Linked DNA regions of Homo sapiens: all the other regions are linked to region 3. The links come from fine-mapping of genetic effects on gene expression. A gene starts in region 3. Each other region holds a variant in brackets. All regions are shown on one strand. Distances are from middle to middle.

Region 1 (8,000 bases), 80 kb before region 3:
TCTGTGGTCGAAGCTAGTTGAGGGGCTGAGATGGGAGGATTGCTTGAGCCCAGGAGGTTGAGGCTGCAGTGAGCTGTGATTATGCCTCTGAGTAACAAAGTGAGACCCTGTCTCAAAAAAAAAACCAAAAAACACCAACACATACTCAATATAAATTTAAATTTCTTGATGCTTTATGGTTTTTGCTTTAAATTAGAAATTAAAGGATTTAAAAAATATATAAAATATATAAACATATGACAAATAAGAATCTTGATTATTTGGGTGAAGAAAGAAAACAAAATCACGAATTTAAATTTCCAGGGCTCTATTTTATGTTTTTCAGCAAGGTCATTTGAATATAAAATATTTAATAAGGACCTCAAATCATATTCTCTTGTTCAAGTACTTTAAAAGTTGATTCCAGAGCCCTTAAAATGTATGAAGGATGCTTTTCCAGACTGAGTCATAAGAAGTCCTAAAAGCCAAAGAATTTAAAGGGTTGTAAAGCAAATAGCCAGAGAAGTGTCAGACCTGTTTTATTTTTGATGTTACCTTCTGAAGGAATTTCTCCTGGGAAGTTTTTCCATTTGTATTTCGATCTCAAAACTAAATTTGGAAAAATCATCTTGTTCATATTATCAGTCTGGATGTGCATATTCATATCTCAAAAGTATTAATTGGAGGCAGATCACCAGTAGAAATTAAATTCAAATGAAAAATAATGTTGATACACTTTATGCTTTTGCTATTGATTTTTTAGCCTTAAAAGATTGGTAAAATATTAGTATTTTCCTTTTTCCCTTGCATGTTTACAACAGTGAAAAAATGTGTAGCTAAATATAGATTGAAAATGTGGCAGACCCCCGAGTTAAGCAGTCAGGTTTTCAGTACCATTCAGATTTGGTTCTTTGAGGTTAGAGTTCTCATCATCTCAAAGATGAGATTACTTCCTAGACCTAGAGATGTTATCAAATCAAGGCTGTGTACATTTTATTTCCTTGGTCTTTTTTTAGACTCCATAATCTGAATCATTGTTTTTATCAGATGCCAAATCTTTTATTTTCATTTGTTAATCATAATTTATCATTAGGAAACCAAATTGTGCATTGTTCATTTCTTATTTAGATTATGCTTAATAACTAGTAGGTTAGGATTCTTATAGACTGCTGGAGAGTGGCTTGGGTAAGGAACACATCTCTCTGAAATATTACCTCTATTGTGACATGACTAAATCATTGATGTAAATGATTAGGAAACTTAAAACCTACTTAACACATTGTATTTTTTTTTCTTCTTTTGGTATTTAGGTGTTCACTCAACTTGGATCTGTGCTGAAAAATTGTGACATTTCAGTACATCTGGTAGAGGTAAGCCAAAAATTAAGTGAGATTCAAGCATTGACACTGACTAAAGAGAAGGTCCCGTTAGAGCGAAATGCTGGATCCCCAGTGTATATGAAAGGTGTCACTAAGTCTGGGATTCCAATTTCCTGGTACCGAGATCTGCACGATGTTCCAAAAGGTAATTACCTTTATGTGGATTAATGAAAGAATTTTGATCACAACCCTCACAGTATTGATGGGACTGTAACTTTTTACAGCAATATAATAGATTGAGTTACTGCTGCCAAGTCCCTTATCCATAGAGAGTAGCCTACTTTTTTCTAGAAAAGAGCATCTTAATAGAAAATAAAGTTGCCTGACATTAAGTAGTAGTTTATTTCATGAAGCTTTGTAAAATCCCAAACAAAATGTAAATCTCCTTTGTACTTTTGAGTATTTCCCTATAGCTAGGGTTGTACCGATGACGGAGCAGCCCAAGGCAGCTGGGGCTGATGGAAGCAGTGTTAGTAGGTGGGTTTAGTTCAGTTATAGAGTCTTTTAAAAAATCCTTACTTGCCTAAAGACAAGCAAGGTGTGGGGGAAAATCCCTGTACTAGTCAGGAATACTGACTAGTATTGACTAGTTTGAGTCTTGACTCAAAGCCAAAGTGGGGGTACGATCTTGGGTAAGGGATCTCAAGCCATTCCTGCCTCAGCCTTCTCAGGCTGAGAAGCCCGATTTTATGAAATCAAATTCCCTTCCAGCTAACAACTCTGACTTCTAATTTCTTTCAAGCCTTGTGATGAATAAAAGCTTTAACTGCTATTTCAGGTATTTCCATTTTCTGACCCCATTTATGTGTAAAATAAGAATAGTAATAATTGTTCTATGTTCTGCAGTGTAAGTTTTCCATGAAGAGGTAGATAATTCTGTGGTAGTGATGATTATGGAGGAAGTAGGCATTTTTTTTACAGTTAATATTCAAAAGAATTAATTCCTGTGAAATGTGGAAACATTAATTGTTTTCCTCTTTTTAAATAGGGTACAGCTTTTATCTTGCACATGAATTTTTTGATGTTCTTCCTGTGCATAAATTTCAGGTATTGAGGGGGGAAAAAAGTCATGTCTATAATTGAATACAAAAGGCATTGTGTTGCCAATGTTTATGGTATTTATTCAGTATACAAATTTTACTTGTTGAGGTTATTTTTAACTATTATTTGGAATTTTGGTACACAAATAATTCAAAAGCAAAAAATGAAATATTAATGAGAATTGTTAGTTCTCCTGGGATAATTATTAAGAATTCTTAATTCTTCTGATTTGAAGAAGTAAGGGAATGAAAAATGGTAAGATGGTAACTGGCTGTGGTGCAATGAAGGATTTACTTAAGCAAAAAAAAAATTTTCTTTTTTAAGAGATAGGGTATTGCTATGTTGCCCAGGCTGGTCTTGAACTCCAGGGCTCAAGTGTTCATCCTGCCTCAGCATCCCAAGGAGCTGGGACTACAGGTGTGCGCCACTGCACCCAGCCAACCTTAGCACATTTTAAAAAATTATAGATTAAACTTTTTTGGGCCAGGCATGGTGGCTTACACCTGTAATCTCAGCACTTTGGGAGGGCGAGGTGGGTGAATCACTTGAGGTCAGGAGTTCAAGACCAGCCTGGCCAACATGACAAAACCCTGTGTCTACTAAAAATAGAAAAATTATCTGGGCTTGGTGGCACGTGCCTGTACTTCCCAGCTACTAGGGAGGCTGAGGCATGAGAATCACTTGAACCCAGGAGGCAGAGGTTGCAGTGAGCTGAGAT[T/G]GCACCACTGCACTCCAGCCTGGGCAACAAAGCGAGAGCTTGTCTCAAAAAAAAAATAATAAAACTTTTCTTCATTCTTTCTGTGAGGAGATTTAAGATTTGGTGATAATGTATATGTACTGGTAATTTGTGAGGAGAAGAGCAGCTCTCATGATCCTGTAGTAATTTGTTAGTAAAGCTTCTGGCTGTTCTTCCTGAGTCTATTTCCGTTTTTGGGGTACTTTCCATGCTGCTGATTTTATCTTCCACAGCGTCATCTCTGTTATTGTTTCTTTTGCATCGATTGGTCTACTCATTGTTCAAAGGCAATGAAGTAATGAATTTAAGTAATTTTAAATAGTAAGTTCTCTGTAAATGTTAGTTACTTATGGTAAGAGGAGAAAAAGCTATTTTTGGTAGAAGCAATGTAGAGAACAAACTTGCAAAAATTTGTTTTTATGTGTTATTTTGTGTTTAGAAAACACCACAGGGATGGCGAGAAGTATTTGTTGACATTGATCCACAGGTTTCTGATAAACTGAGGTTTGTTTTGGCACCTTCTGCCACCCCAGCAGAAGCCTTCATACAAGTAAGAATATGCTTTTTTAAGTTTCTTTTATTGCTCACAGAATCTTCAAAGTCTTATTTTCTGAGTTACTACTTTAGAGTTTTAGAGTTCCTTTACAGGAAGAGTTGCTAGTAGCATACGAGGTGCTTTTTATTGACAGTGAAAGTGCAGAGGAGCTAGAGGCAGGAGCATGGGTTAAAATCATTTCTTAAGTGTGTGACCTTAACGTCATGTAGTAAGAGAAAGTAAGTAACCGCTTACTCAGCCAAGTCTCTTACTTTCACTGCTTATCTCAGTTTCATGTCAAATGGTAATGGTATTGTCCACAGGAAGAGTTTACATCTGTGAAAGCAATGTAGTACAGACTATAGTAAATTAACAATAACAGCTAACGTTTGTTGAGTACTTTGTGTTACTCTGTTTTCTCATTTAATTCTCAAAGCAACTATATTAGGTAGGTTCTATTATTATCCTTCTTTGGGCTACAGCATGGCTTTTATCCCATGCTTCCACACAGATCTCAGTTTGATTCGGCCAGAATGGTAGAATTACTACTGCTTTCTGTTGATCTCAAGGAATCATTGCAAGAGCCTGTCTATTGTGGCTTGTTTAAAGGTACAAAAAAATCCCTGTACTTCTCAGGAACGTCCAGGCTTCAGACTGCCTCTTTTTTTTTAATCCTTTTTTTCCAGCTCAGAAGATGATTTTTACTTTCTGGACCTTAACTGAGAACTTCTTACTTAGAAATTATCAGTTTTAAAAGCACAAGAGCTTTTAAACTTAAATGTATGAATTAAGTTTTGTTAAGTATAAATTTAAATGTCAGACTGAACACTTATGAACACCTGTTTTTTCATAGTATAGCAATCTAAGTTTACCTGAATGACATATTCATAGAACTACCAAGAACTAACCTCCTGGCCCTGGGAGTTCATTTAGTTCTTGACCTAATTAGTATTCACTTAGGAAGGGAGGGAGCGAATATTCTCTTTCACTTGAATGAGATGCGTGGTAATACATGTCATCTTGAAGAGTAGCCTAAGATAGAATGTCAGCATGATCAGCGTGTCCACTGATGCCTGATGAGGCTGACTTCATGGTTTTTATAGTTAAGCCACAGTAATTTGATTGCACTATTAGCTAAATGGTTAGTTATATTTAATCCTCACAATAAACCTACAATATCTATAAGGAAGAAAACAACTCAGAAAGTTTAAGTAACTTGTCTACCAGTAAGCATAGGAAGAGCTGAGATTTAACTTCATCTGACTCTATGCCTGTTACCATAGGCAGACATCAGGGCAGGTCATTACTGCATTTCTATAATAAGGTGTTAGGAAGGAGTACAAGTTAATGTATGTTTTCATAATGAAGGGAAAGAAATACCACATTTTCAATCAGATCAGGAAGTAGTGAAATTTCATATATACTAGTCAGGTTGACAAGTGTTAATACTTAGTGTGATTTTGCTTTTTAAGCTAGTACACACTTATTGTGGCCCCTTAGTTAAGTGGACATCTTGGGGTAATAACGGTTTCAATACATTGGCACTAGTTTATAAGCCAGCGTTTCTTGATGTAGGGCATATCATTGGGATACTTTCTGGCACAACAGAGGGCATGATAATATAATTGTCTAATAGGGTCTGCTTCGTGTTATTGGATTTATACCATTTGTTCTTTCAGCACAATATTTTCATTGACTGTTATGTGCCTGGCACTGTTCTAGGCAGACAAAAAAAATCCCTTTCCCATGCTTTCAACCTAGAGGAATGTGTTTATATGATTTGTGATACAAAAGTAATTTTACATTAAATGATAATGCTCTAGGCCATCTGGGGGGATTGGGAGGGCATTTGCCTTTTTATAAAAGAGATTAAAATGTCTTTGTATATCAAGTGGGATAGCATCAAAGAACTAAGGAGTTTTGTATAATAAAAAGGGAGTCAGGTGAAAAGTTGAGTGTAGAGAACATACTCATATTAAGAATTTATTTTTATTAAAACTAAGAAATGCTCATTGAGGAAAAACCTGAAAAACCGTAAGGAAGTCATTCTTTTGAATGATGCATTTTGACTCTTGCAATGATCCCTTTACTAGCATGACGAAACAAGGGATCATGTTGAAGTGTGTCCTGATGCTGGTGTTATCATCGAGGAACTTTCTCAACGCATTGCATTAACTGGAGGTGCTGCACTGGTTGCTGATTATGGTCATGATGGAACAAAGACAGATACCTTCAGAGTATGTATAATTCAGTAACATGATTTATCAGAATTTCAGTGTTAGATCTGAAGCCCATTGAAGAGCTTTGATTTCTACAGTGCCTGGTATTGTTGTATTACATTATTTTATAGTTAACATTAATTCATGTTATTGTAATTCCCCTTAACCCTAGTTCTTACTGCTAACACTGAGTCTACTGTCCAGCCCTCCTTTAACAGGATCTGAATTGTGTACATTCTTCCTTAGTTGTAGAACCTATGTTTATATAAATCCAGATAAGCAGCTGAATAATACAAATGGAAAGATTTTCTTCACATTCTTAAACCTATCTGTAACCCCCTTCATTCAAGAAAAATTTTGGTACTTCTTTACAGATTTAAACTACCTACTGTAATCATTCTAGCTTTTTCTATCATATTTTCAACATTTTTTCCCTTTCCAGATGTATTCTTTTACACTGTTCCTAAACATCCTTTCTTAATGATCTTTGAATATAATCAATTCTATTCAATATACTTTAATTGAAAAACATTTAACTAAATGCTCTTAGTCATTTTCTAGGTCTGTGGTTCTTAATTTCTAACTTTATCTAAAAATAACCTGGATAGTTTGTTGAAAATACTCATTCTCTAGCCTTACCTCCAGGATTCTGACTGACCAGGTCTGGTTAGGGTCAGTAATATATTCTCAGGTGATTTTTTTTTAAGTAATTTCAACTTTTATTTTAGATTTAGGGGGTACATGAGGCAGGTTTGTTATTTGTTACATGGGTATATTGCATTGACTCTGAGGTTTGGGGTACGAGTGAGCCTGTCACCCAGGTGGCAAGCATAGTACTCAGTAGATAGATTTTCAGCCCTTGTTCCCCTCCTCCTGTCTCCCCTCTAGTAGTCACCAGTGTTTGTTCCCATAAGTATGTTCACGTGTACCCAGTGTTTAGCTCTAAGTGAGATGTACATGTGGTATTTGGTTTTGTCCCTGCATTAATTCACTTAGGATAATGGCCTCCAGCTATGTCTACGTTGCTGAAAAGGACGTGATTTCATTTTTTTTTATGGCTGTGTAGTAGTTTGTAGTGTATCTCAGGTGATTCTGATGCATGGTTGATGCATATACTTTGTAAAACACTGCCTAGGTGTTCCCTGCCTAGAGAATTAATGAGAGCTCTATTCCGTCACCTCAAGCATTAATGTAAATATTAAATAACTTTAATATGATAGCATTTCTTTAATCTTAATAACCATAAAAGGGCAAAAATCTGATTTCTTTATGTTCAAGGGGTTTTGCGACCACAAGCTTCATGATGTCTTAATTGCCCCAGGAACAGCAGATCTAACAGCTGATGTGGACTTCAGTTATTTGCGAAGAATGGCACAGGGAAAAGTAGCCTCTCTGGGCCCAATAAAACAACACACATTTTTAAAAAATATGGGTATTGATGTCCGGCTGAAGGTAAGGTTTATTTTATTTCACTGTTATTAAGTACTTTCATAGTATTTCAAAAATTACTTTAAATAGTATGTTCACCTGGCCTTAATGCTCTTGTAGTTAGCCAATCCTTGGTATTCCAGTCTTTTCAGGTAGTATAGGATTTAGTAACTAGTCTGGTAAGTTTTATGCATCTCCATGGGAGGTAGCATTAAGACTTCCAAATAGTGTTTTTGTTTGTTAAGAAAACTGCGTTTATGGGTATGAATTTTCTAACTGTTCTTCTGAGAACACCTAAACCTTACTGTAGATCAAACCCCCTGAGGATATTTGTTAAAAATGCAAATCCTTAGGTTTGTTTCACACCAATCTACATTTTTAATAAGTACTCTATGATTCTCAGGCAGGTAATCAGAAGTCACATTTTGAGTGCTGTTTTATTGGAATATTTGAGAGTCATTAGTATTGCTGCATGTAACTAGGAATCCTGTCTTCTGGTTATTTTTGCTAAGAATTTTTTTCTTTTCAGGTTCTTTTAGATAAATCAAATGAGCCATCAGTGAGGCAGCAGTTACTTCAAGGATATGATATGTTAATGAATCCAAAGAAGATGGGAGAGAGATTTAACTTTTTTGCCTTGCTACCTCATCAGAGACTTCAAGGTGGAAGATATCAGAGGAATG
Region 2 (8,278 bases), 26 kb after region 3:
ACCTGGGCGACACAGCGAGACTCCGTCTCAAAAAAAAAAAAAAAAAAAAGAAGTATATGGGTTCACAATTACATGGGTTCACAATTACTTCCTTTTCTTGTGTAACAGTTTTGAAATCATGAAATTGCTAAGGGATTGTGCAAATATTAATGATGTCAGCATAAAATAGTATGTTATAGAGATATTAAGAAAAGCAGCAAAGTGAAGCGATATAAACTTTGGCAGTGTTATTGAGCAGACCTTTTACACACTTAGAGTATGCCTGTATTTACTCAAATGTTTGAAATACAGGGCACGCTGGTAAATGCCCACTCCCACCCAGCTACATGCATATATATATGAATAGCCCATTTCAATTCTTCGGATCTAATGTAATCACCACTCAGGGGTCACAGCAGGCCCCACTTACACATGGAGACCACAGGCCACAGGGAACCTGGTGGTAGTGAGGGAAGTCTGTAACATAAGAATAACTTTATTTTAAGGAAAACAACTTCCCATGGGGGCCCATGAAGAAGAACGTGGAATGACACACAAAAAATCCTCTCCTTCTCTTCACTGAGAATACCCTTCTGGTCAGAAATTGGGAAGAGAACATTACAGACTGGAATATGGAGCCACACCAAATGTATCTTTGTGATACATCTAAATGGAAGGGAATAAATGAGATGGAAACTGAACAAACCACTCTGAAAAGATCATTTGTAGGTGTGTGTAGGCAGGGGGTATTTATGGGTGGGAAAAGGTGCTGTGATTCTTAAAATATTTTAAACCAATGAGAATTTAACTTTTGAGAAACGTCTTTTAAAGCATGAATCCCTTTTATATTTATTTTAAGAAGCTTCTGATCACTGTTCCATTGAGAAACTGAATGTTTTCAAATCATTAAAAGCAAATGACAATCAGCCATCACATTTCCCAGTTTCTAGCTTCCTCCCCTTATTCTGTAGACCTTCATAAAGTCTTGCAGCCTGGGTGATGAATCGGTCCACACTAAAATATGTGCCTTCCTACTTTTTATGGTGTTCGACTATTTTAATCATATGATGTATGTCTTTGGTACACTGGTCTGCTAACAGGTGAGGTGTGGTAAAGAAAGCATTGATTTTGAAATCCATTTCCTTCGTTTTGAAATAAAGATGTTTCTCTTTCAGTGGCTTTGAATATGTAAAAGCAGATCAACTGTAGTTTATGGTGGCATTCAGAGGCCATGATTTGATTATGTATTTGAAACCTGGAAACAATTTTTCCATAGTAACAATATTATAAATTGTTAAACTCCCAGGTGGGCACACACCTGTGTATTTAGAGGCATTGGCATCTGGGTATGGGGTGTTTTATATATATATATATATATAACATATATATATATAACATATATATATAACATATATATATAACATATATATAACATATATATATAACATATATATATATATAACATATATATATATACATCCACCTCACTTGAACTTCACAGCAAGCCCCATGAGGAAGGTACATTCATCCTCAATTTATGGTTGAGGAAACTTGACAACTATTGCACTAGTGAACTGAAGAGCTAGGGTTTGGCTTAAGCCCTGATCTCTCCTTTCTTCTTCTGTGCTTTTCTAATGGTAGATGAGTCCTGGCTGATGTACCCGGAACAGTGCCCAGGTAGTGAAAAAGTGTGGGGCTAGCAGGGAAGTTGGAGGGCCAGATGAAGAGCTTACTCTCTCTTTCTGGGTCAGGGTGGACCCTAAATGGCATTCTAAAACAGGTAGTTTGGTTTTGGTACCTTCTCTTCTGACACCCCCTATTTTCTCCTTTCCTTGATCTCCTTCATGCAGCTTAAAGGTCATCATTAGTCTGGGTGCTAATCCATATTCCAGAGTTACTTCTTCTGAATCTTCCCCAGGCCTTTTGGTCACCAGTCTTATTCCTTTAGTACAGGCCCATTCCTTTAGTACAACATTGTCAACTAGCTATTAAACAGAATCTCATTAAATCATTCTTCCTTAGGTGCGAATGACTGATGGCTTTTGAGGGCTTTATATGCTCTTTAAAAATATTAGTTTCGATAAACTAAAAAGTCTGCCTTCTATTGAAGTCTTCTAATTATAAAGTTGACATGTGCTCATTTTAGAAAACTTGGAAAATACAGAAAAATACACTAAAAAGAAAACTAATGTCACCCATAACCCCACTATTCAGAGATAATGGCTATTAACCATTTTGGTGTTTTTATTTCTATCTCTCTCTCTCTGCGCGCGCACGCGTGTGTGTGTGTGTGTGTGTGTGTGTTATTGTTGTTGTTGCATTCTAATGGAAGCAACGACGGAGACTCTCAGGCAGTGACGTGGAAGTTAGTTGGGGGCTGGGTGTTGGTAGGGACAGAAAGACAAAATGTCATTTTGGAGCCTTACCATCTAGTTGGTAAGTATCATGAGATCCATTTTACAGATATGGACTCTTTCCTAGTCACAGCTAATAAGCGAGGGAGCTGAGATTTCACCCTAAGCTGTTGTGGTTAAAGCCCGCACGGCTCTGCTTTTAAGTAGAGGGCTGCTTGCATTTTAGAAAAGACAGATGTTGTCTTGTTCAGTTCCTAACTATTCCCCCACTGAATTTTTTATATCAGTGGCATCCGACACACAGAAGGAGTTCAGTAACTGCTGATTGAGCTGACTTTGCAGACAGACAGAGGTGTTAATCTGAGAATTGCCCGGGAGACATTCATATAGAATAGAAACTGGACTTGCATTGGCTGCATTTCTGTAATGATCTCCCTTTAATTCAGTCTTTTGGAACCTCAAAACCCTTTGCAAGCTGGGCCAACTCTATCAATTATGTAATTAAAACCCTCTTTAAAACCACATGATTAGCCTAGAAGAGATGCTTCAGGATATCTGGTTCACACTTTTGGCTGAAAGATTCTTGCACTCAGAGCAGACTTATTGTCCTTTCTGTCTGGATGAAAAGACAAGGCAGGGGCTGTAACAGAGCCTCATTCCTCTGAGAACACCTGCACCAATAGAAAATTGTCTAAGTGTCTTTTAACTGAGATAAACCTACAATAAATTGGGGTTTGCATTTACCATTGGGCTCAACTTTGTTTTTGCCTGAGTTACTTTCCCCCTGCTGAGCTCGCTCTTTCTTTCCAGCTTTTTCCTCTTACTCATTCATCTCATCTCCACCTAAATTTGTATATCTATTGAGTTCTGAGAATAAGACCCCTCAAACATTGAATGCATGCTATTTAGGTTGGGAAAGTCAAATGCTTTTCCACACAGGGCTTTAATGAATAGAAGGCTTAAGTAGTTGACTGAGTGTAGTTGGTTGTTTCCTCTTCTCTGTCCTTCAGTTACTGGGAAGCTTTTAGCTCTGGGATTTTACAGGGGCATCTTTGCCCCCAGAGGGGCAAGGAGAGTCAGGGCTCTTTACTGAAGTATGTTAATTAAATGGTTGAGCCCAGGAGGTTGAGGAGCAAACACATGTAAGTCTCTAGATTCATAAGCATCAATAGGCCTGGCCTGTCTGCTGGATTTACCCTTTAGTCATCCATTAAGCATTTTTTGGTGCTATTTGCCAATTAGGTTTCATCTGCAGTATCTCTTGTAGTTAAAGATGCTTGGGGGAGGGGGCATTTATTTTGTTCCTGTTTTTTCTTAAATGTCTTAAGAGCTCTTTCAAGCCTCTAGAAACCAGCCATTTAAACACAAGTGATTTCGTTTCACTCTGGACATGGAGTGAAAGCTTCTATCCACAGTGACCAGATGGGCTTTGGGATAGAGTATTGGACAGTAAGCAGACAAGGAGCCACTGGTAAACAGCTTTTGACACAACAGTTTTGGTTGTCATAGTGACTGCTTGGGTCAACCCAGCTCTTCATCGTCAGAAGCATCGAATGTCAGAAATTCAAAAAGAGCAAAGCCCAATAACATTGAACCACAGCACTTCCTGGCCATTGCAGCAGGTAGCCACCTGTCTCTTCTGTCTTTATGCTTGCTTGTGCATTCAGCTGATTTATTATTTACAGTGGCAGAAAAATGCCCATGTTACTTTATTATTATATAAATACAGTCTTAGCAAAGATAATTTTAGAAAGATAGTTCATCTGTTGATTGCTTTTTTGATTAATTTCCCCAATATTTATCAAATGCTCAAGATGAACCAGGCCCTGTGTGGCCTGTGTGGGAGAGAGAGGTAAACAACAGAGAGAGAGGGAGTTCCAGCCCTTATGGAGCTGATGTCTTGTATGAAAGACAGACATTAAACAAGTAAACACACAAAGAAGTGGCCTCCAAGCTGCAAGCTGAAGTGAGCAGGAGTTAGCCAGGTGAAGAGGAGGGGAAACAGCTTGTAAGGCAGAAAGCACCGCAGATGCCAAAGCCTCATGGGGGCAGAACCTCAGAGCATTTGGGGCCTGGCCAAATGCCAGAGTGACCGAAGCATG[G/T]TGAGCAAGGGTGAGGGGGGAGACCAGACAGGCTTCTGTTGGCAGGGTTGAGTAATAATTAACCATGGAAGTCTTCTGACCTCTTGCCTCCATATTCTTCTTATCCCTTCGCACATTTCTATTGCTTTGTCTTTCAGCTTCAGCTTTCTTTTCCAACTGTTGTTTGGGAGCTGGCATGAGGACTTAGATCCTGGAGGTACCAAGGGATTTAAAGCCTGCACTGACAAGTTTATCAAGGAAATATATTTAAAAATGTCCTACCAATAAACAAAGACAAATCTTCTGATGTTCAGGCACAGCACCAATATTCAGGAATAAACTGGAAGTGCATAAATGAGACAGTGAGGCAGAGTAAAACTAGCATGGGATTGGAAATCCCCAGACAGCGGATCTTTTTGTGGATTTACCTGTAACTCTCCTTCAACCTCAGGAAGTCAGCTGGTTTCTATGAATCTCAGTTTCCACTAATATAAATGAAGGAGGTTGGAGACTAGAGCATCTCTAAGTGGCTTTTCCAACTTTAAAATTCATTCTATGGCTCTTTAGTGTTTGATAGAAGGAAATAGTAACTAACACATTGAATATTTACTATGGCAGTTTACATATGTTAGTTCACTTAATTCTATTTACCCTAGGATTCAGGTATTACTACCTCTGTTTTACAGATGAGGAAATTGAGCCTTAATGAGGTTTAGTAACCTGGAAAGATTTACAGCTAGTAGGTGGTGGGGTGCTGAGTTGAGAGGCTGAGTTGAGAGGGTCTGTCTGATCCTATAGCCCATGCTCTTTGCATGGTAAGTACTGGAAAGTAAACAGCCATCTCGGAGTATAGATGAGTGTAAATAATTAGGCAATAAGCATTCTTTGAAGTCCAGTTTCACACCAGTCCCATGGAGTCGATCACATGGAATGAAAATAGTTGCATGACTATTTAAGCGTATCCAGCTAACACTGGTCCTGAAAGGAACTATAAAATAGGCCTCTCCTAATTTCTGTTTTGCCTTCCAAATAATTCAATATTCTTATGTCATCCTCATCCTTCCCCTTAGGGAAGAAGTCATCTGATCAATTGTTCTCTTCCTGTTGAGGAGGAGTAACACATTCCATTATTAGGTGCCTGATAAACATGTAATGAATGAATGGTTCATCATTACCAGTATCATAAGAATATACAGTATGTGTGAAGTCATCCAAAATACAAATTTGAATGTTATGTGAACTTTAATGCAATTTAAAAATAATTTTAATTGAAGTTAAAAAGTCTACTATTTAGTTGGCTATAGATTCACCAAGCTCAGGCTGAAAGGAATTGCAACAATCATCTGAGTTGGCACTGTCTAATAGAAATAATGACTCAGGGCTGGGTGCGGTGGCTCATGCCTGTAATCCCAGCACTTTGGGAGGCCGAGGTGGGTGGATCACCTGAGGTTGGGAGTTTGAGACCAGCCTGACCAATATGATGAAACCCCGTCTCTACTAAAAATACAAAAATTAGCTGGGCATGGTGGCATGCACCTGTAATCCCAGCTACTCGGGAGGCTGAGACAGGAGAATTGCTTGAACCCGGGAGGCAGAGGTTGCAGTGAGCCAAGATCATGCCATTGTACTCCAGCCTGGGCAACAAGAGTGAAACTCCATCTAAAATAATAATAATAAAAAAGAAATAATGACTCAGCTACTCAGGAGACTGAGGTGGGAGGATTGCTTGAGCCCGGGAGGTGGAGGTTGCAGTGAGCCAGATTGCACCACTGCACTCCAGCCTGGGTGACAGAGAGAAACCCCAACTTCAAAAAAAAAAAAAAGATTATGAAAGAAACATATGTAATTTTAATTTTTCTAGTAGCTACATTAAAAAAGTGAAAAAGGGGTAAAATTAATTTTAATAATATACTTCATTTAACCTAATATGTCAAAAAATTACCATTTCAACATGTAATCATTATAAAATTTTGAATTAGGCTTGCTATTAAAATCCTATTAAAATTCGAGGACCCCTTAATTTGTGGCTCATCTATAAAGTCTTCCCTGACTACTCTCCCTCTATACTGTGTAAGATTTACTTAGGCTAACAGTTGGGTTTTTTAATTATTTTTAAAATTTTTACTGAGACAGGGTCTCCTTCTGTTGCCCAGCTGGAGGGCTCAGTAACACAGCTCACTGCAACCTTGACCTCCTGGGCTCAAGCAATCCTCCCACCTCAGCCTCCTAAGTAGCTAGAACAACGGGCATGCACCAATGCGTCACCACGCCCATCTAATTTTTTCATTTTTTGTAGAGATAAGGTCTCATTATGTTGCCAGGGCTGGTCTCAAATTCCTGGGCTCAAGCAGTCCTCTTGCCTCAGCCTCCCAAAGTGCTGGGATTACAGGCTTGAGCCACCGTGCCCAGCCCTAACAGCCCAATTTTAAAGTTGAGTAGTTTAATTTACCTCATTTGACATAAAGTTCTCCCTTATTTTGAAGTTTTAAGCAATTAATTGAAAACATGTCAGAGTCTTAAACATGTTATGAAAGGATAGCTAGTTAAATGATTTCATTCAATCCTCAGAATTACCACCAGCCAGCCATTTTGAATTCATCGGCTCTTCGGCAAATTGCAGAAGGCACCAGTATCTCTGAAATGTGGCAAAATGACTTACAGCCATTGCTGATAGAGCGATACCCGGGATCCCCTGGAAGCTATGCTGCTCGTCAGGTGAGAACATGGGACACAAACCTCAAGCTTGTGTGAATACTGTGCTTTCTCATGAGGGATAATGTTATGGCTGAAGTTCTGAGGTGTCTAATATTCAGATCTGTCATCTCCTCATTCACCAAATAGTCAACCAAGAAAAATCAAATGACTGAGAGTACATGTCTGTTCTGAATTAAGTGGTACATGTTAATGTCAATAGTTTATGTGTGAAATCTCTATTTGGGGTACAACATTACACAGTCCTTCACTCTTGACCATTCAATAGCACACCCCGAGGCTCCCAATTAAGTTTTCTTGAATCCTAAACAATGAACAGCAACAGGCTTAGGGAGTCCTTGCTTGAAGGTTCTAAGTCAAGAGTATCATTGTACTGTCAGGCCATCACTCGCCTTAGGGAAATTGTATTTTCCCTGGAGGGAGAGTTAAGGCTGGTGATAAGCTAGCCGCATTTCTCCAGGGCAGTGCTTCTCAAACTTCTGACTCTGACACAAAGTAAAAAAAAAATGAATTTTACATTTTATACACACAAACGTACTGGCATATTTAACTGAAACAAAACTTCCACGAAAAATATTCTTACAGCATTTTACTGCAATATGGTCAGTTCTATTTTATTGGTTCTTAAAAAATGCTGGTCATAACCCACTAAACTGATTTCAAGACCCATTGATTTTACCACTGTTGTGGAGGGTAGAACAAGCTGGGCCAGACCTTGAATGCCTCTTTGCCTCCCTGATGTCAGTCTTCCTAAGCAATCTGAAACCTCACCTCTGAATATCTGTTTTTTTCAAACTAGCCCCATTTTAAGGGGCCGCTTGGGAAGGAATGGGACTGGCCCTTCACATCCTCTTCTGAAACTCCTCAGGCAAAAGACCTTGGCACCCACTGCTGTGCCTAGATTGAGAACTGCAAGGCGCAGGTGCCCAGCTCTTGAGCTCTTCCTTTCGATTTCAGAGTCTCGCTCTGTCACCCAGGCTGGAGTGCAGTGGCGCGATCTCGGTTCCCTGCAACCTCCACCTCCTGGGTTCACACTATTCTCCTGCCTCAGCCTCCCAAGTAGCTGGGACTACAGGCGCACGCCACCATGCCCGGCTAATTTTTGTATTTTTAGTAGAGACAGGGTTTCACCACGTTGGCCAGGATGGTCTC
Region 3 (8,278 bases):
ATTTAAAAAAAAAAAAATCATGCACGCAAAGGTAAAAATAATGTCATGTGATAAAAATGTGCTTAACAAAACCAAACAGAATAAGTGGTTTTCAAATACTTGAATAAGTGTTAATAGGAGAATTGATTTTATTCAGTATCACTGCAGAGGGTAGACGAAAAATGAAGATGAGAGCACTTCTTACTTAACCTCACAGGTTGCAAGGATTGAGCTACGGGGTACAAACTATCTGTAACAACACCTGGCTAACAGTAAGTGCTCAGTAAGTTTTAGCAATTTTCACAGCAATTAGTTGAAGGAATTAACAACTAAGCCTTTACTTTATGCTAAACACATAAAGTGAGATATGATACTTTATTAAATCCTTGCAACAACTCTAGGAGGTTTAACTCTATTTTCCAGAAAAGAAACAAGAATTTTAGAGAAGCTGTTGTTTGCCTGTGACTATAGCTAGTAAGTGATAGAAATGAGATTCAAACTAGTTTCCCTGACTCCAAAGCCCAAGTTCTTTCTACCACATTATTCCATATCCAACAACCTAACAATGGAACAGGTTGTCTCACGAGGTAATGAGCTCCACAACGTATCTGACTTAAGTAGTTTTTATAAGATGAACTACCAAAATAAAGTAGTAAAATATCTATGAATAAAACTGTATGCAAGTTAACGACTTTTTTTTTTTTTTTTTTTTTTTTTTGAGACAGAGACTTGCTCTGTTGCCTAGGCTGGAGTACAGTGGCGCGATCTTGACTGATTGCAGCCTCCGCCTCCCGGGTTCAAGCGATTCTTGTGCCTCAGCCGCCCCAGTAGCTGGGATTACAGGTGCACATCACCATACCTGGCTCATTTTTGGATTTTTAGTAGAGACGGGGTTTCATCATGTTGGCCAGGCTGGTCTGGAACTCCTGACCTCAAGTGATCCGCCCATCTCGGCCTCCCAAAGTGCTGGGATTACAGGCGTGAGCCACTGCACCTGGCCCAAATTAACTACTTCTACTTTGATGAATGTCTTCCCACTAAATATCATTTTATTATACCTAGTAATATTAGCCAAATAACAGTGTTTAATACAACTAATTTATCAGAACAAATTACAACTATTCATAATAAACACTACATATAAAAATGATTTTTAAAAGTCTCAGTATTAACACAAATAGAAGAAACCTAAGAGCTGTCAGATTTCTGCCCACTCTTTCCATTTTCCCTCTCCTGGTTTGGTTTATGGACCCCAGATTTACTCTGGAAGATGCAACAAGATGTTGGGTGAAAAATATTAAAACTAAATATTAAACCTAATAACTGTAACTTACATGAACCTTGATATGCTGCTTAATTTTGTCTTTACGCTTCAATTAGAAAACTGAAAGAAGAGTACATCTTATTAATTTACAAACTATATACCAATTATATATGCTTGTTTCTAACAGGGGTACGAGGCTCTAAATAATATCATCTAGTTGGCAAGCATTTCTAATATGTTTATTTAGAACTTGTCAAATATTCTTTTGGGGAGCTAGCTGTCACATATTCCATTCAAATGAGCTTACATAATCTGTCATCATTGTTACTGGAATCAAAATATAGGATATTAATGGCATCTTGAACCCAGTCTGTCCTATTTTACAGACAAGGTGAAACAAAGGCCCTGGAGGTGAGAGGACTTACTTGAGGATTATCTCACGGTAATATCACAAGTTTATCTACTTCCTCTCCCTCTCCTTCCCCTTCCCCCATGCACACATTATCTCATTTTTAACACTCTAATTAGGAGAAGCTCTAACAGCAGTATTTCCACTTAACAAATACTTAATTAGTACTTATTATTTCCCAGACTGTTATGAGAGACACTGGAGTTATAGAGCAGTGACCGAAACAGACATGGCCACTGCTCTCTCTGAAATTCAAAGTGTGATGTGAGACACAGACATAACATTCATACAAACAGCTGGGTAATTATAAACTGCAAGAGGTGATATGGCAGAGTATACTAAGGGGACTCAATTCCAGCTGGAATCTCAGGAAAGGTACCTTTAAGGAAATATTTAAGCTGAGATCTCTGGATAAGCAAGAGTCAACGATGCAAAGAGACAGACAAAAGGATTCCAGGAAGGCAAAATGCATCTAGTTATTAAATTCTTCAAAAAGAAGTTCATTATTTAGTGCAGCATCATTCTTTTTGTACAATACTCAGCAAAGGCTAAAGTGAAGAGATAAAATGCTTTTCCTATTGGAATAACAATATTTATTATAACATGAATTCCTCCCAGTAAAGAGTTTTCCAGGTTCAACTTAAGTTTTGTGTACTAGAAATGCTAATGACGTGGAGGGTTGTGTCCACGCCTCTTGACATGTATTAATATTAGTATTCTTTTACCACGTAAAAGTATGTGGCCTTTTTCAATGCAATTCTGACCAGCGTCCTAAAGTCCATGTCCATGTTTTGACATAGGTTTGACTTTGCTTAGTAATTGTTCTTGCTTTTATATTGTATGTTGTATTTAAAAACTCAAGTGTCTACGTCGTTGGTTTTTAAAAAAATCATATCTTGTAGCAATCCCGACAATGATTTATATATTTTCAAAAATACCTATTACTTTAGATTAACATACTTTTCCTAAGAGCTTAGCATTTGCTAAATTGTTTCCTCTAAAATTCTGCTCATCTGGACCAGTGACAGTTGAATCTCAGTCCTTCCACTGTCAGAGAGTACTGAGAGAGCACACCATATCTGCTCTGCTCAGGAACTGAAAAGTTTATCCAGTAATAAGATTATGGACTGCCAGTCTGGCAATGCAATATGAATCCATGTTGAGCTTGACAGATGTTAGTCTCTGCACCAGTAGTAGCTAAGAAATCTGATTGGTTAGCAGCCAATGAGCAATTTCTCACATACTGCCACAATAAACTAACCACAGAAATGGAAAAATTTTTTTTCCTACATTAAAATGAAAATATCTCATAAGCACATTATCTCAAGTTTTTCCTGAGAGGGCTACTCAAAGAGATACATATATATATATAGCAAGTTCGATCTGAATTACATAATCAGCGAGACTCAAAGTACAATCATCACAGAAGATTGTGAATTATAAGCAGCATTATATCAAATTAAAACTTGTACTAGCAAAGAATTTCCTTATATATCAAGCTCTGTACAAGCAGTTTCTTTTAAAAACGAACAATTAACTCCACTGTAGTATTTTCAACTTTAGAGTCTTTTAAAAAAATGAGAACAAAATGTCCCTTAAGAAAACTGCACTTAAATGACCACCTATTCATATTTTTCTGTATGTGGTGTTTTCAATTCGTAATTTAAAAAAATGTAATATCAGAAAGTTTTATTTATGAAGTTCTGTGTGTGTGGCAGTGTTTAAATCCACGAACAGAAAGAAATTTCTATTTTAAAGTGGCTATCTGATGAAACTGAAAGCTTAAAATTTTCTCTAAAAGACTTACCATTATCTAGGATGCTTAAAAAATTAGTTTTAAGATACACATCAGTCAACATTCTTAATGTGAAACGCTATATACTAAATTACAGAACCTGAGTCACCCTGAAATGTGAAATGCTATATACTAAATTATAGAACCGAGGATGGAACCTGGCTCGTCAAGGAGTACTCCAAGCTCATGCACTCAGGCCCACCACAACTGTATTACTACCTACTGAAGAAAAACCTTCCACGGTTTCTGTGTGACACGTTTCAAATCCTACTTTTAGAAAATCTTCTAACTTCTTGGCTGAATGTCCATGCTTGATCTTAACTCGGAATCTAACAGGGAAGGAAGCAAGGGTTCGTTGACAAGGAAAAACTGGCCTAGATCTCAGTCGGGGGAACTTTATGGACGCCTTCTGCAGCAAAGCTAAGGAAAATGAAAATCGCTAAAAATGTAAGAACGACGACATTAAGTAGAAGGGTAAAAAAAAAGTTTCAGAGGAATAAAATAACATTTTCTAGGATACAAATTAAGGCATTTAAAAGTTCTTGTTCCATTTGTGGCTATGTCTCATAAAAGCTGTGTCGCACCAAGCAGCAGTTCAGGGTGTAACTTATCCTTCCTAATCAAAGATGACACCGATAGTCTTATTTCCTGTGGGGATGGGTGTGATTGAAGACACAGTTACGTCCATGCCATCAATCTGTGTGTGGAAAAGTCGGCAGGTCGCGCGCACACACTTGTCGCTTGAATCGTATGTGTGCCTGCAGACGGCAAGGCCTATGCCTCTGACTGCGTTCACCTGAAATAAAATACCCAACCGGCAATACAGTAGTATATGGTTATTTTCACTGCTCAAAGAAACAGTGGCACTCCTCAGTGTTTCAGCTTAAGGAAAACCTCCCAGGAGGGAGCAACTCGGAACAATGCTGCAACTAGCAAATCCAAACGCAGTCGGGATACTGGGGCGAGGGGCTTACATTCTCCAAGCACCATTTACTCACCCCTTTGAGACGACTACAACGCAAAGTGAGGAAATGAAACGAAAAAGCTGGTCCAAAATTCGGCACTGCGAGCGCCGCGGGTCTGGCTTCGGGAACTAGTTTGGGAGACCCGGGAACGGATCGCCTCCGATGGGCCGGGCGCGGTGGTCTCCAGCGGAGCGCGAACCCAAGTTGCCCTCCGCGCGGACGCCGGAACTTGGCCCCTCTGGCGGCTGCGGCGGCGCCCCCGCTCCCCCTCAGCCGCCCACCTCCCGCCGCGCGCTCCCCCAACTTCCCGCCCAGCGCGGCTGACACCGCCCAGCCCGGCGCGGGGTCCGAGTCCTGTCGCCGCCGCCGCCGCGTGCAGTTGGGGGGTTGGGGGTTTGGGGGATGGGGGAGGGGCCGCCGCCGCCTCAGCCCGACGGGCCGGGAGAACAAAGCGGCGGCGGCGGCGGCGCGAACTTTTTCGGTGTCTGTTCAGCGCTCCCCGAGGCGACTACTTACAGTGGCAGGCTCGGCCCGTCGTGAGAAACTGCGCCCGCCAGCGTCTGAGTACCGGACGAGGCGCCAGCGAGGCTTCACGCGCCTCGCAGGATCCCGCCCGCCTCCGGCGCCCCTTCCTCCCTCCCTCCCCGTCCCGTCCTGGGGCCGGAGGGCGGGGGGCCGGGGCGCGCGGGGGGCGGGGGCGCGCGGCCAGCGCGGGGCCTGCCGGGAGCTGTAGTTCCTCGGCCCGCGCCCGCCGGGAGGTGGCCGCGGCGGGAGGTCGGGGTTGTCTCTGCCCCGCGAAGGGGCGCCGGGAGCGCCGGGTACAGTCGGGCTGGCTCCGCACCCTCGAGTTCCGGGCGTCTTCGTGAGCGCGGGGGCACGGGGCAGGGGCGCCGCGGGAGTCGCGAGCGTGTCTATCAGTTACACGCGGTACTTGATCGCGCTGTTGCCGACGGTACTGTCTTTTCCTCTACTGCCGTGCACTCTTGAGGGAGGCGGTGGCGACAATGGGCCAGAGGTGATAGTTGGAACGGGGGACTTGTAAGGCGTCCAGAGCAGAGAGCTGCTTCCACCCTGAGATGTCACAGCCCTCCCGCATGCTCCTCCCTGCTGCCTGCCCCCGGGGTGGCCGCCGGCACCGCAGCTCGGCGCCCAAACCGGCACGTCCCAAGCCCGACGTTCCGGTGACTGCAGGGGTTTTCCCGGTGCTCGGTGTTTCCTCCCCGTCGGCCTTTAAACGCGAATGTGACCCTACCACCAAAGTGGAGTGCAGTCCAGAATCACCAAACCTGGGCTTCCAGGTGTCTGGAAACACAATGTTAACATTTGTTTTGCTCCAAAACAAAGTATGACCGTGTCGGGTGAGTGGGGCGGGAGTGGGAGTCAGCAGCATAAGGATCTAGAGGGAAAATACACTGTGCATAAATTTTCGATGTCTTATGTGAGAGAAAGGCCTGAGAAGCTGACAGGCATTGTCACAGAAGCCACATGATTCTCCTTATGTCAACATTTTATCCCAAAAGTACTTAAATATATTGAAACAATCAGAGGGACTACAATCAAGAGGGCAGTTTTCTTTCTTCTCTCTTTTTCTTTCTTTTCCCCTTTCTCTCTTTCTTCTTTCTCTCTAGAAAAGGTTTTACTCTGTCATCCAGGCTGAAGTGCAGTGACACGATCATAGCTCACTGCAGCCTGGAGCTGCTGGGCTCAAGTGATTATCCTGCGTCAGCCTCCCAAGCAGCTGGGACTACAGGCGTGTGCCACCACGCCCCACTAACTTTTAAGTTAGTTTTTGTAGAGACGAGGTCTCTTGCTGTGTTACCCAGGCTGGTCTCCTGACCTCAAGAGATCCGCCCGCCTCGGCCCTCCAAATCGTTGGGATTACAGGCGTGAGACACCGCGCCCAGCCAAGAGGGCAGTTTTCAAGAATAGAAAGAAAAATAAACATAAATTAGCCCCTACTTTTGATACAAAATCATCACTCTTAATGGATGTCCTCGGATTTAAAGTTAAGAAATGAAAATATTAAGATAATTTATATTAAACATAAGGCAGGTAAGATTGTGTAAAACCTTGATTACTTTATTTAAAAATCTATTTAAAAAAAGATTTCTGAAACATTCTCAGGAATTGGAAGTTGCTAAATGTCTTACATCCAGCAGTATCTAATTCAATCTTACTATATTTTTGTTATTAGAGTCCTATTCAGCTATTCTTTTACTTTAAAATTGAAAGTAGATTTACTCAAGTTTGCCTTCTTTTTAAAGGACTCTCTTGCTTAACTTTGCCCTTTTCTTCCTTTCACTTCCCAACAGACGTTTTAGTCCAGCCCCAAATTTTGCCTCTGAGCAAGATTCCCAGGACCTCATTGGAGCAGTTTACAGCCAGTCTTATCTCACTATTAACTTCCATTTTCTGCTGTAGTACTTAAAGTGACAGAAGTTACTCTTCCTAGAAGTAACTTTTCCAGACGATTCAAACTGCTGTTATACAGAGATTTAAGTATTTGTGTGCATGTGTGAAAACAGAGATATGTAATGTATATATTTCATTTTATTTCCACTGTTCTGCTTCTCTTTTTAAAAATAAAGCGGTCTCCTCCACTTTGGGTAAATCTTTCAGCACATTTGATCAAAGAACTATCTTTGTATCTAATTTTTTGCTTAACATGAACTACAGTTTCCTCAAGGTGTTCCATTCCTGAGCATTACAGAGATAAAGATTGAATTTAATAAATAAGTGTATTGCCATGTGAAATGTTTTAATCCTTGAGAGAAAATATAATCTGAATGCTCAAAATGGAAAGGATTTTTCTTCTTGCTGGTGTTTTATGAAAACGAGCTTACAATATTGCTCTTCTATGGCTGCAGTTGGAGAGCTTGTCCCGCATTATTGGGCTCCTTGTACTTAATGACACACAACATAGCCATTCAAATATGTTACCTAATGCAAGCAAAGAAAGTCAACACTCTTGTGACTTGAGATAACAGAGACATCTGATTTAGAAACCTAAATGCAGGGGGAAAAAATGATCTGCCCGCCGCAGTCTCCCAAAGTGCTGGGATTACAGGCATGAGCCACTGCGCATGGCCCTTATTTTTATTTATTCATCGTTTAGCACAGTGCTCAATAAATGTTGATTAAATCAGTGAATTTTTTCACTAGGGAAATTGATGACAATTTCCAGCTAGAGGAAATTGTCATCATTTTAAAACTGCAGCTGGTTTTAATTTATAGAATGTGGTCACTGGAAAATTATTTTGTGATTGTGTCTTTTTCCATGACCTTGAAACACAGCTGAAAAATTCAATAAAGCATTTGGGTATCAATATAGAGTTAGTAAAATAGTTATGGGAGAAAATGCTTTAGGATCTATTTCTTTATCAGCAGAGACATACGTGATGATATAGTTCTCAAAATGTCCTGTCTCAGTTTCCACTGCCGTTATCCTAGTCCATATCTCACATCTGGATTACCACAACAGACTTTAAGTTGGTGTCCTAGACTAGCTCAAACTGTTATATCCTTGGAACTGTCTTGTCTGATTTGCAGGCTATCAATAATTGTTCTGTGTTCTGATAGCCCTTGAGAGATAATTCTCATGTGGCTCATCACATTTTATTGTGGACTGAGTGTTTATCACATCCTCCTGGGATCGCTATCTGCCCTTCCCTTTTCTGAACTTGAAGAAGACCAGATCTTTTATTTATTTATTTATTTATTTTATTTATTAGTAGAGACAGGGTTTCACTATGTTGTCCAGGCTGGTCTCCAACTCCTGTCCTCAAGTGATTCACCAGCCTCAGTCTCCCAAAGTGCTGGGATTACAAGCGTGAGCCACTGTACCCGGCCGTTTTTTAAATTTATTC

Evidence for each region.
Region 1: its variant is fine-mapped to the expression of PRKD3 in whole blood (TOPMed, PIP 0.97).
Region 2: its variant is fine-mapped to the expression of PRKD3 in whole blood (TOPMed, PIP above 0.99). The same link has a PIP of 0.9 or more in blood mononuclear cells.

Annotation. Positions count from the first base shown.
Region 1 is chr2:37,240,289-37,248,288 of GRCh38, forward strand. NDUFAF7 (NADH:ubiquinone oxidoreductase complex assembly factor 7) reads left to right here. Exons shown (of 10, transcript NM_144736.5): 5 at 1,290-1,503; 6 at 2,347-2,405; 7 at 3,575-3,685; 8 at 5,764-5,907; 9 at 7,168-7,341; 10 at 7,847-8,000. Among named protein-coding and RNA genes, the nearest start is that of NDUFAF7, 13 kb to the left of the region's middle. The variant T/G (reference allele first, on the strand shown) is at 3,118.
Region 2 is chr2:37,345,807-37,354,084 of GRCh38, forward strand. QPCT (glutaminyl-peptide cyclotransferase) reads left to right here. Exons shown (of 7, transcript NM_012413.4): 2 at 6,983-7,129. Among named protein-coding and RNA genes, the nearest start is that of QPCT, 5.3 kb to the left of the region's middle. The variant G/T (reference allele first, on the strand shown) is at 4,436.
Region 3 is chr2:37,319,753-37,328,030 of GRCh38, forward strand. PRKD3 (protein kinase D3) reads right to left here and starts at 5,081. Exons shown (of 19, transcript NM_005813.6): 1 at 4,929-5,081. PRKD3-DT (PRKD3 divergent transcript) reads left to right here and starts at 5,329. Exons shown (of 2, transcript NR_183394.1): 1 at 5,329-5,770; 2 at 6,725-7,012. RefSeq lists an enhancer at 4,092-4,171 and a silencer at 4,812-5,441.